4 linked regions of the Homo sapiens genome follow. The protein of the gene in region 1 interacts with the protein of each later gene in a pairwise test. Each region holds a gene or a part of one and is shown on either strand. Other genes may lie near its edges.

Region 1 (4,211 bases):
GTGCAAGCCTGTAATTCCAGCTACTCCGGAGGCTGAGGCAGGAGAATTGCTTGAACCCAGGGGCGGGGGAGGAGGTTGCAGTGAGCCGAGATCGCACCACTGCATTCCAGCATGGGCGAAAAGAGCGAAACTCCGTCTAAAAAAAAAAAAAAAGTATAATGGAGGCAATAGAGCCACAGGAGCAAAGCAGGGTGAAAAGCTTAATTTCACCAAGGTGGTGATCTGGGAAGGTTTCCAGAGGAAATTTTTATTTCCTCCAAAATAAAGTGTATATATATATATATACTTTATATATATATAAATATATTTTTTGTTGTTGTTGTTTTTGTTTATTTGTTTTGAGAGGAGGCCTCACTCTGTTGCCCAAGCTGGAGTACAGTGGCGAGATCTCGGCTCACTGCAACCTCTGCCTCCTGGGTTCAAGCAATTCTCCTGCCTCAGCCTCCCGAGTAGCTGGGATTACAGGCGTGCACCACCATGCCCAGCTAATTTTTGTACTTTTAGTAGAGACGGAGTTTCGCCAGGTTGGCCTGGGTGGCCTCGATATCCTGACTTCTGTTGCCCAGAGTGATCATGGCTCACTGCAGCCTCGACGACCTGGGCTCAAGTGATCCTCCCATCTCAGCCCCCAGAGTATCTGTGACTACAGTCACGTGCCACCACGGCCGGCCTCCTGTATTCTTATATGTATACAATATCTCACAATTAAAGGGTAAATAAATATAAGATCTAGTCAAGGGTATTGGGAGGACTGGCCTAGATATTTCTTTCACTAAACTAAATTTTAACTCTTAAGAAATGTTCACAATAAAATTGTTATCATAGTCCATAAAATCGGTCTTTTTAGTTGCCACAATTATAAGAAGTTGCATACAATTACAAGAGTAAAACAGAATTATAAGACAGCACGTTAGGTTTAAGATTTATGGCCGGGTGCGGCGGCTCACGCACTTTGGGAGCCCGAGGCGGGCGGATCGCACTTTGAGAGACCAGGAGAGCGGGACCCAGTCTCTACAAAATAAAAATAAAAATAAAATGTGGGGAGAGCGTGACGTTTTCCAGGTACAGAGGGGAGGTCCAGGCAGAAGCGCAGGTAGAAAGTGTGAATATGCTGAGCGTATTCCGGGAGCAGCAAGTTAAGCCGGTGTGACCGGAGGGAAATGGAGGCCTGGCTGCCGGACGGTGAGGGTGACTGCGCGAGCGTCCGCCCAAGAAGTCTCCCTGCCTTCCCGCCTTTCCCCTGTCTTGGGCCCCTTCTTGCTTTCCTTTCGCGCTCTGTGCTGACTCCGCCCCTCCGGCGGCGCCCGTGGCCCCGCCCCTGAGGGAAACAGACAAGGGGCGGGGCCGGCGCGGTCATCTCTCTGCGCCTTCCCGCAGGGCGCCGAGCACCTGGCGCCGCCTGCCTGACGTCACGGTCACTGACAGCGTGAGCCCGCGGCGGCTGCTGCCATGGTGGCTGGCGGCCGGGTAAGGGTCTGAGTGGATCTCCTGCCAGGCCAGAGCGCCTTCGGGGGCCGCGGCGGAAGGCCAGGAGTTTGCAGCCAGGGCGCCGGGTTTGTGGTCTGCAGTGTCGTGAGGCTGAGGTGGGGGTTGAAGGCCCAGAAGCCGGACTCTGTGACCCGGGTCGGGGGGTGTACTGGAGGGGCGGCTACGTCCAGGCTGGGTGAGAAGAGAGGCAGTGGGGCCCAGGAGGCTGGAGGAAGCCTTAGGGTTCAGACTGGGGTGCACGTAGTCGAGAGCTCAGGGTTTGGGCAAGGGGATACCTGCCGGGGTTCAGCCTTGAGGGTGGGTTTACCGGGTTCACGAATCTCTCTCTCTCCTTACCCCCGCCCGCCCGCCCGCCTGCCTGCTCCCGGTGACTTCTGCTGGCCGCAGGTGCAGCATGTCTAGACTGGGAGCCCTGGGTGGTGCCCGTGCCGGGCTGGGACTGTTGCTGGGTACCGCCGCCGGCCTTGGATTCCTGTGCCTCCTTTACAGCCAGCGATGGAAACGGACCCAGCGTCATGGCCGCAGCCAGAGCCTGCCCAACTCCCTGGACTATACGCAGACTTCAGATCCCGGACGCCACGGTAGGAGCCCGTCTCCTGAGACCGCGGTCACTGCAGACTAATGGGCCTGAGGTCTGGGCTGCTTTCGGTGGAGACTGTGGGACAGGGTAACGGAGAGAAGTGCTTTAGGGTTTCACTTTTTTGGAAGCTTGTTGAAAAAGCAGTCGTCGGGCTGGGCGCGGTGGCTCACGCCTGTAATCCCAGCACTTTGGGAGGCCGAGGCGGGCGGATCACCTGAGGTCAGGAGTTCAAGACCAGCCTGGCCAACGTTCAACCAGATGTCAACATGGTGAAACCCCATCTCTACTAAAAATACAAAAATTAGCCGGGCGTGGTGGCGCGGCCTGTAGTCCCAGCTACTGGGGAGGCTGAGGCACGAGAATCGCTTGAACCTGGTAGGCGGAGGCCGCAGTGAGCTGAGGTTGCGCCACTGCACTCCAGCCTGGGTGACAGAGTGGGACTCTGTCTCAAAAAAAAAAAAAAAAAAAAAGCAGTCGTGGTTTTCTCTACTCTTTCGCCTGTACTCACAAGAAAGTATATTTCAAAAAGACTGTTTAACTTTCACTTTTAGTTCTGGCCACAATAGTGCTATGTGGGTATTAAAGGCACTTGCTTAGTGTTGGGTGAGGTGTGTAATAAGTAGAGGAAGAGTCCAAAAGAGGGCAAAAAGAATAATCTTGTAGGGATTAAAAGTCTTGAGGCTTATGTATTAAATCATATATTAGAATTTGAAGACAACTTGGCAACTATCAAGACAACTTGGCAACTATCTCATTCAAGTTTTTTTTTCTTTTTATCCCTCCTATGAGGAAACCAAGATTCAAAAAGATGGTATAACTTTCCTGAGGCTGTCACAGATTAAGTGGCAAGGTTGGGCCTGGTCACCTGGTCCAGTGGACTTTCTACGGCATAGGGCTAGGAGCACGCTTAATGCAATTGAAGCTGAATGTGGCTGGCAGCCTGTACAGCTGAAATGAGTAGTTCTTGCAGATTTGTCAATTCATTTGAGCAAAGGATCTAGGGCTGGTTCAAACTACTACCATCTTTGTGCAAGAGGAGTGTTTTTTTTCTTTTCTTTTCTTTTTTCTTTTCTTTTCTTTTTTTTGAGATGGAGTCTCGCTCTGTTGCCCAGGCTGGAGTGCAGTGGCATGATCTTGGCTCACTGCAACCTCCGCCTCCCTGGGTTCAAGTGATTCTCGTGCCTCAGCCTCCCGAGTAGCTGGGATCACAGGTGCGTGCCACCATGCCCAGCTAATTTTTGTATTTTTAGTAAAGATGGGGTTTCCCCATGTTGGCCAGGCTGGTCTCCAACTCCTGGCCTCGGCCTCCTAAAGTGCTGGGATTACAGGCGTGAGCCACCACACCTGGCCAAGAGGAGCGTTTACATTATCTCACTCCCATGCTAATTGGAAATGAGTGTTTTCTCTGATTGCCAATGTTAGATGGTTTGGAAAAGTTAGTTTTGGAGTCTTCAAAGAGCTATCAGCTTAGATTGCAAATGATTGTCAGCATTTTATAATCTTGTGGTAATCTAGTATTGGAGTGTGCTTCCTTCCCTTGTATTTTGTTTGTAATTGCTTCGCAGTAGTGTTTCTTCTGAGATTAGAAGAAAGTGGCCACATTGCCAGGGATCTTTCTTGCACTACATTCTTGAGCATTATTGGATGTATGTTGTGGCCTGGCCTAGTTTTTTACCAGATTTCCTTTAAGAAGGGATTTATGCTTGCCGTATTGTAGGGTCCTGCCTCTCTGGTTTCTTTTTTGTTTTTGCATTTTCCAGTTCAGTTACCATAGGTGGCTGTCACTTTGCTAGCATTTCACTGCTGGAATTTACTCTGAGATCTAGGGTTGGGTCAGCAGGGCTTAGTGACGGTGTCTTTCTGAGGCAGTTTGGATGGGCTTTTTCTGGTGTACCTTTTCTCTTAATAACTGCCCCCTTTCTCCTAGTCCTTCTCTGATATACTAAATGAAGTTCTGGGAGAAACTCCAAGTTTTCCCTACTATTATTTGTGAAGTGAGAGATCAGAATTTGAGGGAGCTCAGTTTTAGTTTTAGTTTTGCTATGTGGTTGGTATTGACTCCTTGGTATTGGGCACTATATGGTGAGGTGAAGGTTTTTGTTTTTTTTTAACTCTAGCAGGACAGCTGTCCTCCTTCAGGTTC
Region 2 (3,500 bases), on another chromosome or scaffold:
AGTGCTTCTAGGACGTAGTGGGGAGGGATAAGGAAAAAAATAAGTAGATTATTGGGGATAGTGAATGATAAATCTATTACTACCGAGATTTGAGTTATCTTTTCGATTCACAGAGTACTCAGGGAGTCTCTCAGGTTGCTCCTGCAGAGCCAGTTGCAGTAGCACAGACCCAAGCTACCCAGCCGACCACTTTGGCTTCCTCTGTAGACAGGTACGTAAAACTAGAATTCTCCTTCCTTGACTGGTAAATAAGACGGTATGAAACGCCAAACTGTCAGACCTTTAAATCTCATATTATAAACTGCACTTTTTTTTCTTTTTAAATTTCAAAGTGCACATTCAGATGTTGCTTCAGGTATGAGTGATGGCAATGAGAACGTCCCATCTTCCAGTGGAAGGCATGAAGGAAGAACTACAAAACGGCATTACCGAAAATCTGTAAGGAGTCGCTCTCGACATGAAAAAACTTCACGCCCAAAATTAAGAATTTTGAATGTAAGTATTCCTAATTTGTGAGTTTCATGTTGTTAAAGGAATTTGACACTGAAAAAGATTTTAGAGGTCATCAAATCCAAACCACTCACTTCATAAAATAAAGATAACTATCTGTGTGTGACAGATAATTTTTTTTTTTTTTAGACGGAGTCTCGCTCTGTCGCCCAGGCTGGAGTGCAGTGGCATGATCTCTTCTCACTGTGATTGCAGTGCCTCCTGGGTTCAAGCGATTCTCCTGCCTCAGCCTCCCAAGTAGCTGGGACTACAGACACGTGCCACCACGCACGGCTAGTTTTTGTATTTTTAGTAGAGACAGGGTTTCACCATATTGGTCAGGCTGGTTTCAAACTCCTGACCTCAGGTGACTCACCTGCCTCAGCCTCCCAAACCACTGGGATTACAGGCACCCAGCCAGATAATTTATATAGTACTCTTCTCATTTCATGCCCACAGTCTCTTTGACTTAAATATCACATTTTTAGAAAAATGAAAAGGTAGTTCATAAAGCTATGATAGGGCCAGCAGTTAATATCATTTAAATATTTCTTAAGGCTTAGATGAATTGATGAATGTATAGGATCTTATAATTAGCCAAATGATATTCTTACATTCCATATTTCTATGATAAAGCACTACTTATCTTTTAGAAAAAGAATAGAGAGTTTTAGTAAGTAGCTCAAAGGCTAACGTCTTCTCAAAGATTTTTCTTGCTACCAGTTTAAGAGACAAAGTACTAGTGCTCCAAGGAACAGCGATAACACTATGCTTCCTTAGACATAAAGTCAAGTGCTAATCTGCATTGCTTTTCTGAAATTCAGTAATAAAGCTGAATATGGTCTTTGGAGATGATGTACCTTTTTTCTTTTTAGGTTTCAAATAAAGGAGACCGAGTAGTAGAATGTCAATTAGAGACTCATAATAGGAAAATGGTTACATTCAAATTTGACCTAGATGGTGACAACCCCGAGGAGATAGCAACAATTATGGTACGTCTGCATTTGGAGTTCTAGGTTTTTCCTTAGTACTTGATCTTAATAGCCATTGCTCTAGGCAAATATGCCATATTTTATAATCCATGTTTTTTTAAAGTTATGCATTTACTTCAATGTGAATAAAACTATCACACCCAACCTGTGATTTAGTGATGTTTTTGTCTAGGCTATGTCTAACTAGATATTGAAGTTCTTAAAAAGAGAAGAGCTAACTTGAGTACAAAATAAATAAAAATATAGGTAAGTATGCAGATAGGACAGAAGTCATAAAAGTGACATAAAGTTTGAGAAATGACACTAATTAGACTGACATCACATTTCTTTTACAGGTGAACAATGACTTTATTCTAGCAATAGAGAGAGAGTCGTTTGTGGATCAAGTGCGAGAAATTATTGAAAAAGCTGATGAAATGCTCAGTGAGGATGTCAGTGTGGAACCAGAGGGTGATCAGGGATTGGAGAGTCTACAAGGAAAGGATGACTATGGCTTTTCAGGTTCTCAGGTAGGTTCACCACTCCCATAGTGAAACTTTGTTGATTTAAAATATTTTCATAGTTCTAAATTTGCTATGCAAAATGTCCAGTGATATCACCTGACACCCATGACCGACAACAAACTTTTATGTTCTCTTCACATGTGGCAGTTTGCTTTGCCTAGTCATTGAGATTGCATTTGAGAATGTATTTAATCACTTTTGTTTGTTGTAGAAATTGGAAGGAGAGTTCAAACAACCAATTCCTGCGTCTTCCATGCCACAGCAAATAGGTGAATTTATTTTCTTTCCTTGTTTTTACCTTTGACTTAAGAAGCCATTAGCCGAGGGTGGTGGCAGGCTTCTGTAGTCCCAGCTACTCAGGAGGCCGAGGCACGAGAATCGCTTGAACCCAGGAGGCGGAGGTTGCAGTGAGCTGAGATCGCGCCACTGCACTCCAGCCTGGGTGAGAGAATGAGACCGTGCCTCAAAAAAAGCAGTTGTATGTGCCAATAATGAAGTCTAACAATATTTATAATAATAATGCTATTAAGTTACGTTTGTTTGTTTGTTTTTGACCAGGCATTCCTACCAGTTCTTTAACTCAAGTTGTTCATTCTGCGGGAAGGCGGTTTATAGTGAGTCCTGTGCCAGAAAGCCGATTACGAGAATCAAAAGTTTTCCCCAGTGAAATAACAGATACAGGTAAGGGATTGATTCTGCCACATTGTTATGTAAATTCTACAGTGCCTCTGCTATGTTGAAAGCTTAATCATAAAGCAGTAATTTATGATGACACAGATAATAAAAAAGAATAGAAAACTGAAGTTATAACCAACAGATAAACATATGGGAGAGGGAAATAGATGAAGAATACAGAGAATTACAGAAAAAGCCAAGAAGCACGGCCATACCAAGATATAGTCTGTATAATAGATATTGTAGTATGTGTTTATTTCTGCACTTAGTACTGTTGTCTATGTTTTAAGATTACTCCATATTTTTTATCAAAAACAGATATTTATAGGAGCTGACTTAGGCTAGCAGACAATCTTTTGAATCCATCCTTTTAAAATCAGCTGATTCTTATCTTTTTGTATTCCTTTGCAGTTGCTGCCTCTACAGCTCAGAGCCCTGGAATGAACTTGTCTCACTCTGCATCATCCCTTAGTCTACAACAGGCCTTTTCTGAACTTAGACGTGCCCAAATGACAGAAGGACCCAACACAGCACCTCCAAACTTTAGTCATACAGGACCAACATTTCCAGTAGTACCTCCTTTCTTAAGTAGCATTGCTGGAGTCCCAACCACAGCAGCAGCCACAGCACCAGTCCCTGCAACAAGCAGCCCTCCTAATGACATTTCCACATCAGTAATTCAGTCTGAGGTTACAGTGCCCACTGAAGAGGGGATTGCTGGAGTTGCCACCAGCACAGGTGTGGTAACTTCAGGTGGTCTCCCCATACCACCTGTGTCTGAATCACCAGTACTTTCCAGCGTAGTTTCAAGTATCACAATACCTGCAGTTGTCTCAATATC
Region 3 (4,014 bases), on another chromosome or scaffold:
CCCATCTCATTGCAGACCTCTAGTGTGGTCAGATAGCCAGCCAGCTTTTTAACAATGGGCTCGAGGGCGCAGGTCTTGGCCTGGGCATCACACACGAAGCCCAGGTTGAAGAGGAGAGCATTGCGGCTGTACTTCTTGTGTTCGATGCACACAGGACAGCCGATCAGCTTCTTTTCCATAGCTGTGCTGGATAATTGGAACACAGTCAGGCCCCCAAGCCTGTCCCTTCCTCCTCCTGGGACAACCCCTGCCACCCACCGCTCACCCCGAGCTAGGGTCTCACACAGTGATAAGCTTGTTCTGCAGCTCTGGCTTGGTGATGATGTACACTTGGACTGTGTCAAACAGCTCTCGGGAGATGAAGTCTTCAGGGACCTGGGGAGGGGAGTGGCAATGGGCCCCTCAGTGGACATCTGTACTGGGTGTAGTACAAATGGTGACCTCCTCATGCCCCCCAAGCCCAAGTCCTCTTCTCCAGCGTTCCCCTCTCTCCCATCCACTCAGGCCTATTACTTCTTTCTGTTTCCAAACATACGCTATGATCTCACCTCCTTCCTGGCTTCTGCATATGCTGTTCCCTCTACCTGGAACACTTTCTCCTGCCTTACCTAAACTTCCTATGCATCATTTACTCTTCACTCAGTTCAGGGATACTCATGGGTCACCCAACTCACCTTCTGTGGGACCTGGAACCCCCCAACCGGATCCCTACAGCCCGATATCCTACAAACACTGCCAATGTGACGTATGTCTTCCCTGCCACATTGGGAGCCGGGGGCCTGGGTCTGACTATCCTCTAGCCTCACAGTTGTCTGCGAATGAAGCAGCATGCCTGCGTGCAGCACGGGAAACTACTGCCTTCAGGCAGCCAGTTGAGCTCTCGAGAACGTCCCTCTTCCCGCCCAGTCCCGCGAGCCCGGGTGGCACCTGATAGGTGATCTTGGGTCCCAGCGTGGGGTGGAACTCGCTGAAGAATATGCATTCGATGCGGCAGCCGCTGCCCATGGCAATAACCGGGCCCAGGCCCGTAGCTCCTCGTTCCTCGCGCAGAGGCGTCCCCACCTCCTGTGAACACTTGTCAGAGACAGCCTCGAGGCCTGTGTCGCTGGGGCACGCAAGCTTGCCAATCCCTCTGCCCAATGGCGCCTGCGCAGCGCGACTCAGAGGCGTGGCTGGGGCGGGGGACGGCTCGTCCCAGGAAGTCCTGGGTGGGTAGACGTCGCACCCGGAAGTAAAGCGGCTCCGTGACGGAGCGGCGGTGCGCGCGGCAGGGCCCGGAGTATCCCGCTTTCTTTGGAGGAAACCACCGCATCAGATCTGCGCTGCGGCAGAGGCAGGCAAGTCCCTAGCGTGGAGGGGCAGCATGCTGGCAGCACTTGGGGAGGCGGTGCGCTAAGGGATTCACGCTGTAACTGGGACCGCAGCAGGGAACTACAATTTCCATAGTGCTCCGCGCCCTCCCAGCTGGCTCTACTGCCGGCGACGGCGTGGTACACGCTGGGATTTGTAGTCTTACATGGCTTTGCGCCTCCTACCTGGAAGGCGGGCCAGCGATTGGTACCAGTTCAGACATGGGTACACGTTGACAGGCCGCCGGCCGTCGACTGGCATGTTGTGACCATTCCTGGTGCTGGTCTTGGTACTGTTCTTTCCTACCATAACTTATTGGAAGAGGGTGGCATTCCTGCCTTGCAGCCTTTTCTCCAGTGAGGAGTGAACAGTGGGCACCTGAGATCCTGGCCCACGCTACTATGCTTTCAGGCTACAACCACTAGCACGGCTGACGATGGCCCTTTCTGCGGAGACCGAGTCACACATCTACCGAGCTCTGCGTACTGCTTCTGGCGCTGCCGCCCACCTTGTGGCCCTGGGCTTTACCATCTTTGTGGCTGTGCTTGCCAGGCCTGGCTCCAGTAAGTAGAATTCATAGCTGACTTCTGGGAAGGGAAGGGCCACTGTTCCTGGGGAGGAAGGGCAGTGGGACTTCCGGGAACAGGCCTGGCTGGTTGAGGGAATTCTGTGCTGGAGCGATGAGTGAGGTGGAGCAGGTAGGTATGGCCAGGGCACACAGAATTCCTGGTTTGTCTTTCCTTCTCTGGGTGCTCCATTTGGCTGCCTCTCAGGAGGTGTAAGGGAAGGAGGGAGGACTGCCAGAGGAGTGGCAAAGCATGGCCTCTGATCCAGGAAGAGGCCAGGAAGAGAGGATAGGTGTGGGGTCAGCTTGTTGCAGAGCAAGAAGGGGCTCACAGTTTGGCAGCACCTCCTTGGGTGATGGGCTGCTGGTATTCCTCAACCCTTAAGGATTGGTATGGCTGGTTTCTTCTTGCCTCAGCCCCATGAGGCCTCCTCTTCTCATTCCAGGCCTGTTCTCCTGGCACCCGGTGCTTATGTCTTTGGCTGTAAGTAGTGGGCCTGGGCAGTTCTTAGGGGTGGGAGCATGGGCATGGTTGGTGGCCCTGGCAGCCTCTGAATCTTTGTCCACATTTAATATCTGTTTGGAAGAGTTGCATGCTCCAACTACTCCTGCCCATGGTATATATTTCAGACTTGAGGCTGGGCACGGTGGCTCATGCCTGTAATCCCAGCACTTAGAGGCCGAGGCGGGCACATCACCTGAGGTCAGGAGATCGAGACCATCTTGGCCAACATGGTGAAACCCCGTCTCTACTAAAAATACAAAAAATTAGCCGGGCATGGTGGCACGCGCCTGTAGTCCCAGCTACTCGGGAGGCTGAGGCAGGAGAATCGCATGAACCCAGGAGACGGAGGTTGCAGTGAGCCAAGATTGCGCCACTGCACTCTAACCTCTAACCTAGGCGACAGAGCGAGGCTCTGTCCCAAAAAAAAAAAAAAACCCAAAAACAAAAAAACCCCCCAAAAAACCAAAAATTAGCTGGGTGTGGTGGCAGGTGCCTGTAATCCCAGTTACTCAGGAGCCTGAGGCAGGAGAATTGCTTGAACCCGGAAGGCGGAGATTGCAGTGAGCCGAGATCAGGCCACTGCACTCCAGCCTGGGTGACAGAGAGAGACTATCTCCAAAAAAAAAAAAAAAAAAAAAAAGAGACTTGAATCAGAGTAATGAAGACCCAGGACCCAGGTCAAATGGGTAAGATTTGTCTAAGCACAATGAGGCTTCACCCACCTCTAGGCAGAAAGCTGAGACATTGCATTTGGATGTACCTCTGTCCCTTTTTACTTTAATTTCTGGTGATGCACCTAACTTTCCCTGAAACAGTGCACCCATGTGGCCAGCTCTTGCCAAGAAATTGTATCCAGCCCCACGTTAGGGAAACAAAGCTTGTGAATCATTTATAACTGCCACATCTCAAACCCTGTGTTTGCTTGGTAACATACGACAGATGACATTTCAGACTGGCACCTAGGAGGAAGTGTGGAGATTATTCAGGGCACATATATCATCCCAGATGGGGTTTTCCACTCTTGCCCCACCAAATGGATAGTCTTGTCAGTGGGGAGAGAAAGAAAAAGGGGAATCAGCCCAGACTCACTGGCAGCTAAGGGTTACATAAAGCCCTCTTCTCCTCTTCTGGGGCAGCACCCTCACTTGAGCTTCCCATCCCCTGTTTCCTCAGTTCTCCTTCCTGATGACCGAGGCACTACTGGTGTTTTCTCCTGAGAGTTCGCTGCTGCACTCCCTCTCACGGAAAGGCCGAGCACGCTGCCACTGGGTGCTGCAGCTGCTGGCCCTGCTGTGTGCACTGCTGGGCCTCGGCCTTGTCATCCTCCACAAAGAGCAGCTTGGCAAAGCCCACCTGGTTACGCGGCATGGGCAGGCAGGGCTGCTGGCTGTGCTGTGGGCAGGGCTGCAGTGCTCAGGTGGGGTGGGGCTGCTCTACCCCAAGCTGCTGCCCCGATGGCCCCTGGCGAAGCTCAAGCTATACCATGCTACTTCTGGGCTGGTGGGCTACCTGCTGGGTAGTGCCAGCCTCTTGCTGGGCATGTGCTCACTCTGGTTCACTGCCTCTGTCACTGGTGCAGCCTGGTACCTGGCTG
Region 4 (3,500 bases), on another chromosome or scaffold:
AGTTACAGTTGCTGTTTTCAGATGGCTGTCCTGAATCTATAAGGTAGCCCCCTGAATGACAGATAAGTCACTCTGACCGCCTTTTTTTTTCTCTCCCACTTCTGGACCTCTGCAGGTGTCTGGTTGAGAAGGGAGATGTGGCCTTTGTGAAACACCAGACTGTCCCACAGAACACTGGGGGTAAGTGCACCTGCTCCTCTGTCCCCCTAGATCACTAGATCCTGGTCACTGGTATTCACTTGTATTCAGGGATGCCTTTGTGGAAGTATTATGTACACTGTCAGACTTCAAAGCTCTGATTCTCAGTCTGTCTGCTCAGTGAAGAGAGACATGTTCACCTGAGTGCGCAGAATGATCAGGATTATGGGGCCCCCAATGGCCCTAAATCCTCCCCAACACACACTCCCACAGCTGCAAGCCTTGTGCTCCTTTCCCCTAAATACTTCAGTGCCTATTTCCTAAGAATAAGACAATCTCTTGCATACCCACAGTATGATTACCAAGATCAGGATCTTTTACATTATGTGGATTTAATACTCGTCACGTCCACAGTCCACATTTAACTGTTGTCAGTTATCCCAGTAATGCCTTTTATAGCTATTTACTGTACTTCTGGGTTGTGTCCATTGAGAAGGCCTAGAGGCAATGGCATACCAGCAGGAGTAAGCACCAAGATATTGGCTTGTAAGTACTCTTCTTTACTAAAAGGAACCAGAACTCCTTGGAAAAATAGCTGACTTCAGGGCTGGGGCAGGAAAAATAGATGCTGAGCCTAGAACAACACACTGAAGTGCTCAAACAGTGATGGGACACTCAAAGCATACAAGAACCAATTTGAAGGATCTCCTGTTGCCAAGTCTGGGAATTTTGAGCATTAAAATAAATAATGATAGCAGTAAGGGATAATAGCCCATTGAAAGAAATAAGAATGCATGAGGCAATACTGATTAAACAAATGAAGAAGGGAAAACTAATCAATGTGGAAGGAATGATAGAGTTAGAAAACTATCACTTGGCAACCAATATATTGATAACTGATTCAAGCAAGAATCAATGGGTGTTAAGCCGGGCGCAGTGGCTCACGCCTGTAATCCCAGAACTTTGGGAGGCCGAGGCGGGTGGATCATGAGGTCAGGAGATCGAGACCATCCTGGCCAACAAGGTGAAACCCCGTCTCTACTAAAAATACAAAAAATTAGCCGGGCGCGGTGGTGGGCGCCTGTAGTCCCAGCTACTCGGGAGGCTGAGGCAGGAGAATGGCGTGAACCTGGGAAGCGGAGCTTGCAGTGAGCCGAGATTGCGCCACTGCAGTCCGCAGTCCGGCCTGGGCGACAGAGCGAGACTCCGTCTCAAAAAAAAAAAAAAAAAAAAAAAGAATCAATGGGTGTTAACTTGTGGGTGAACGTTGGACAGCCATAATATTAATAAAAACAAACAAAACAAAGCAAAACAAACATTGGCCAGACTGAGCACTCCACACCTGACCCCTCAGTATCACTAAGTGCTAGCAGAGCCCACTGGAATTCAAGCTGTGAATACTTCCCTGCCTTCTCTCATGTTCATTCCCCAACTCCTCACTTTTCCTGGGCAACTCATCCAGAATGAACCGGCTCAGCACCAGCCCCTCCAGGAAGCCTTCCCAGATGGCATACCCTGTCCTACAAGAAGACTCCTCTGTTCATATTGCCATTATGATTGAATTCACCACACTCTGTAATACACTTTGGCTACAGAAACTCTTTGAGCTCTTTTTCTTCATCTTATATTCCCAGAACCTAGTGTAGCACATAGTACACAGCAGTTGCTAAGAATTTGTTTGCAGAAATATTGGGTTGACTAATTTTCCTTTCTTCCCTCGTATTATTGCTTTTTCCTTTAAGAGAGTGTTACCCTAAGCTTGGCTCTTTGCCACCCTTGATTTCTTTTGGTACTTTTCTGAGTAGAGCTCCCTTCTTTAAGCTTTGACTCTCTTACTCTTTGCAATGACTCAAAAATTCTTCCCTCCTGCATAGAATTAAGATAGGAGGCCTGACATCCAATCTCAATTCCATTCCAGTCTATTTCCCAAGGTGTCACTTTTATGTAGAGAGTACATTGGCATTGCAATTGTATTTTTTTACGTGTGTATATGGATGTCCTCATATATTGTAGTTGTATATATACAATCCATATACAACTCAACTGTCCTCATCTTTCTGTCAACGTTCCCTCCTCTTCTCCCAGCCTCTATCCTTATAGAGAATCCTGCTATACTCCCTGCCCATCAGGCCTAGATTAAGTCTGTCAGTCAATATCTTATTTCTTCAAAACGTGTCTTTTTTCAAACTAAATTTTGAAATAATTGTGTGTATTTAAGGTAGACAACATGATTTTTAAGAGCCAAAGTAATTTTGATGTATTGTAAGTTTGGGAACTACTGGTCTAATACCCCTGACTTAATATCACATTCCTGATAAATATTACTAAATGTAAGTCACATCATGTCTGATTCATCATACTTATATTTTGCACCTTCTTACCTTCTTCTGTTATTAATTTGTTGCTTTTTCAACTTATATTTTAGATTGAGGGTACATATGCAGGTTTGTTACATGGTATACTGCATGATGCTGAGGTTTGCGGTATGATTGAACCTGTCACCCAGGTAGTGAGCATAGCACACAACAGGTAGCTTTTCAACTCTTGCCCCCCTCTCTCCCTCCTCCAAAATCTGTCTTAAGTGCTATGGTATATACAAGAAGGAAGACACAAAACCACGTGGGCTTTTTTTTTTTCTTTTTTTTCTTTTTGAGATGGAGTCTCACTTTGTTGCTAGGCTGGAGTGCAGTGATGTGATCTCAGCTCACTGCAAACTCCGCCTCCCAGATTTAAGTGATTCTCCTGCCTCAGCCTCCCAAGTAGCTGGGACTACAGGCGTGCACCACCACGACCAGCTAATTTTTGTATTTTTAGTAGAGACGGGGTTTCACCATGTTGGCCAGGATGGTCTCCATCTCTTGGCCTCATGATCCGCCCACCTCGGCCTCTCAAAAGTGCTGGGATTACAGGTGTGACCCACCGCGCTCAGCCCACATGGGCTCTTTTATCACAATTTGTGTGTGTGTGTGTGTGTGTGTGTGTGTGTATGTGCATATTATAGGTGTGTGTAGGAAAAAGAATGTTAGAAATGTACCAATTTTGAAGGCGTAGACTATGAAATTACAAATGCTTCAAAATTTTCTTCCCAATACTTACGTGGCATTTTATAAATTTCCACCAATAAACGTGTATTATTTTTATTGAAAAAGCATATTTTTAACATGCCCTTCTAGATGCCCTCCTAGCCAGACTGAATCACCTCCCATTTGATTTTTCTTAATTTTCTACCTTTAGGTTCTGGCTCATTCATTAACATCAATTTCCATTCATAAGTCCTCACAAACCCACTTTTCCTCTTGCCTGAGTGCCTCACATACCCTACTGCCTGAGATGGTTCCAGAGGCGGTCTCCTCTCTCCCTTA

The links. Proteins that work in one complex are often made in the same cells at the same time.
Region 2: the proteins of RMDN3 (region 1) and WNK1 interact in a two-hybrid assay, tested with the Homo sapiens proteins (one large-scale study listed by IntAct).
Region 3: the proteins of RMDN3 (region 1) and CYB561D2 interact in binary tests that used the Homo sapiens proteins (3 or more experiments, as listed by UniProt).
Region 4: the proteins of RMDN3 (region 1) and TF interact in binary tests that used the Homo sapiens proteins (3 or more experiments, as listed by UniProt).

Annotation. Positions count from the first base shown.
Region 1 is NC_000015.10:40,752,455-40,756,665, reverse strand, and holds the start of RMDN3 (regulator of microtubule dynamics protein 3), read left to right. Parts: upstream 1-1,411; 5' UTR 1,412-1,583; intron 1,584-1,875; 5' UTR 1,876-1,882; coding exon 1,883-2,069; intron 2,070-4,211.
Region 2 is NC_000012.12:881,579-885,078, forward strand, and holds part of WNK1 (serine/threonine-protein kinase WNK1), read left to right. Parts: intron 1-113; coding exon 114-211; intron 212-332; coding exon 333-495; intron 496-1,364; coding exon 1,365-1,481; intron 1,482-1,816; coding exon 1,817-1,990; intron 1,991-2,195; coding exon 2,196-2,253; intron 2,254-2,542; coding exon 2,543-2,665; intron 2,666-3,070; coding exon 3,071-3,500. UniProt on the Homo sapiens protein: Serine/threonine-protein kinase component of the WNK1-SPAK/OSR1 kinase cascade, which acts as a key regulator of blood pressure and regulatory volume increase by promoting ion influx.
Region 3 is NC_000003.12:50,349,648-50,353,661, forward strand, and holds the start of CYB561D2 (transmembrane reductase CYB561D2), read left to right. Parts: upstream 1-1,214; 5' UTR 1,215-1,337; exon of another isoform or gene 1,338-1,761; 5' UTR 1,762-1,786; coding exon 1,787-1,913; intron 1,914-2,361; coding exon 2,362-2,399; intron 2,400-3,593; coding exon 3,594-4,014. Other genes in the region: GATOR1 complex protein NPRL2, read right to left, coding at 18-186, 284-375, 675-830. UniProt on the Homo sapiens protein: Transmembrane reductase that may use ascorbate as an electron donor in the cytoplasm and transfer electrons across endoplasmic reticulum membranes to reduce monodehydro-L-ascorbate radical and iron cations Fe(3+) in the lumen of that compartment.
Region 4 is NC_000003.12:133,770,393-133,773,892, forward strand, and holds part of TF (serotransferrin isoform 1 precursor), read left to right. Parts: intron 1-115; coding exon 116-180; intron 181-3,500. UniProt on the Homo sapiens protein: Transferrins are iron binding transport proteins which can bind two Fe(3+) ions in association with the binding of an anion, usually bicarbonate.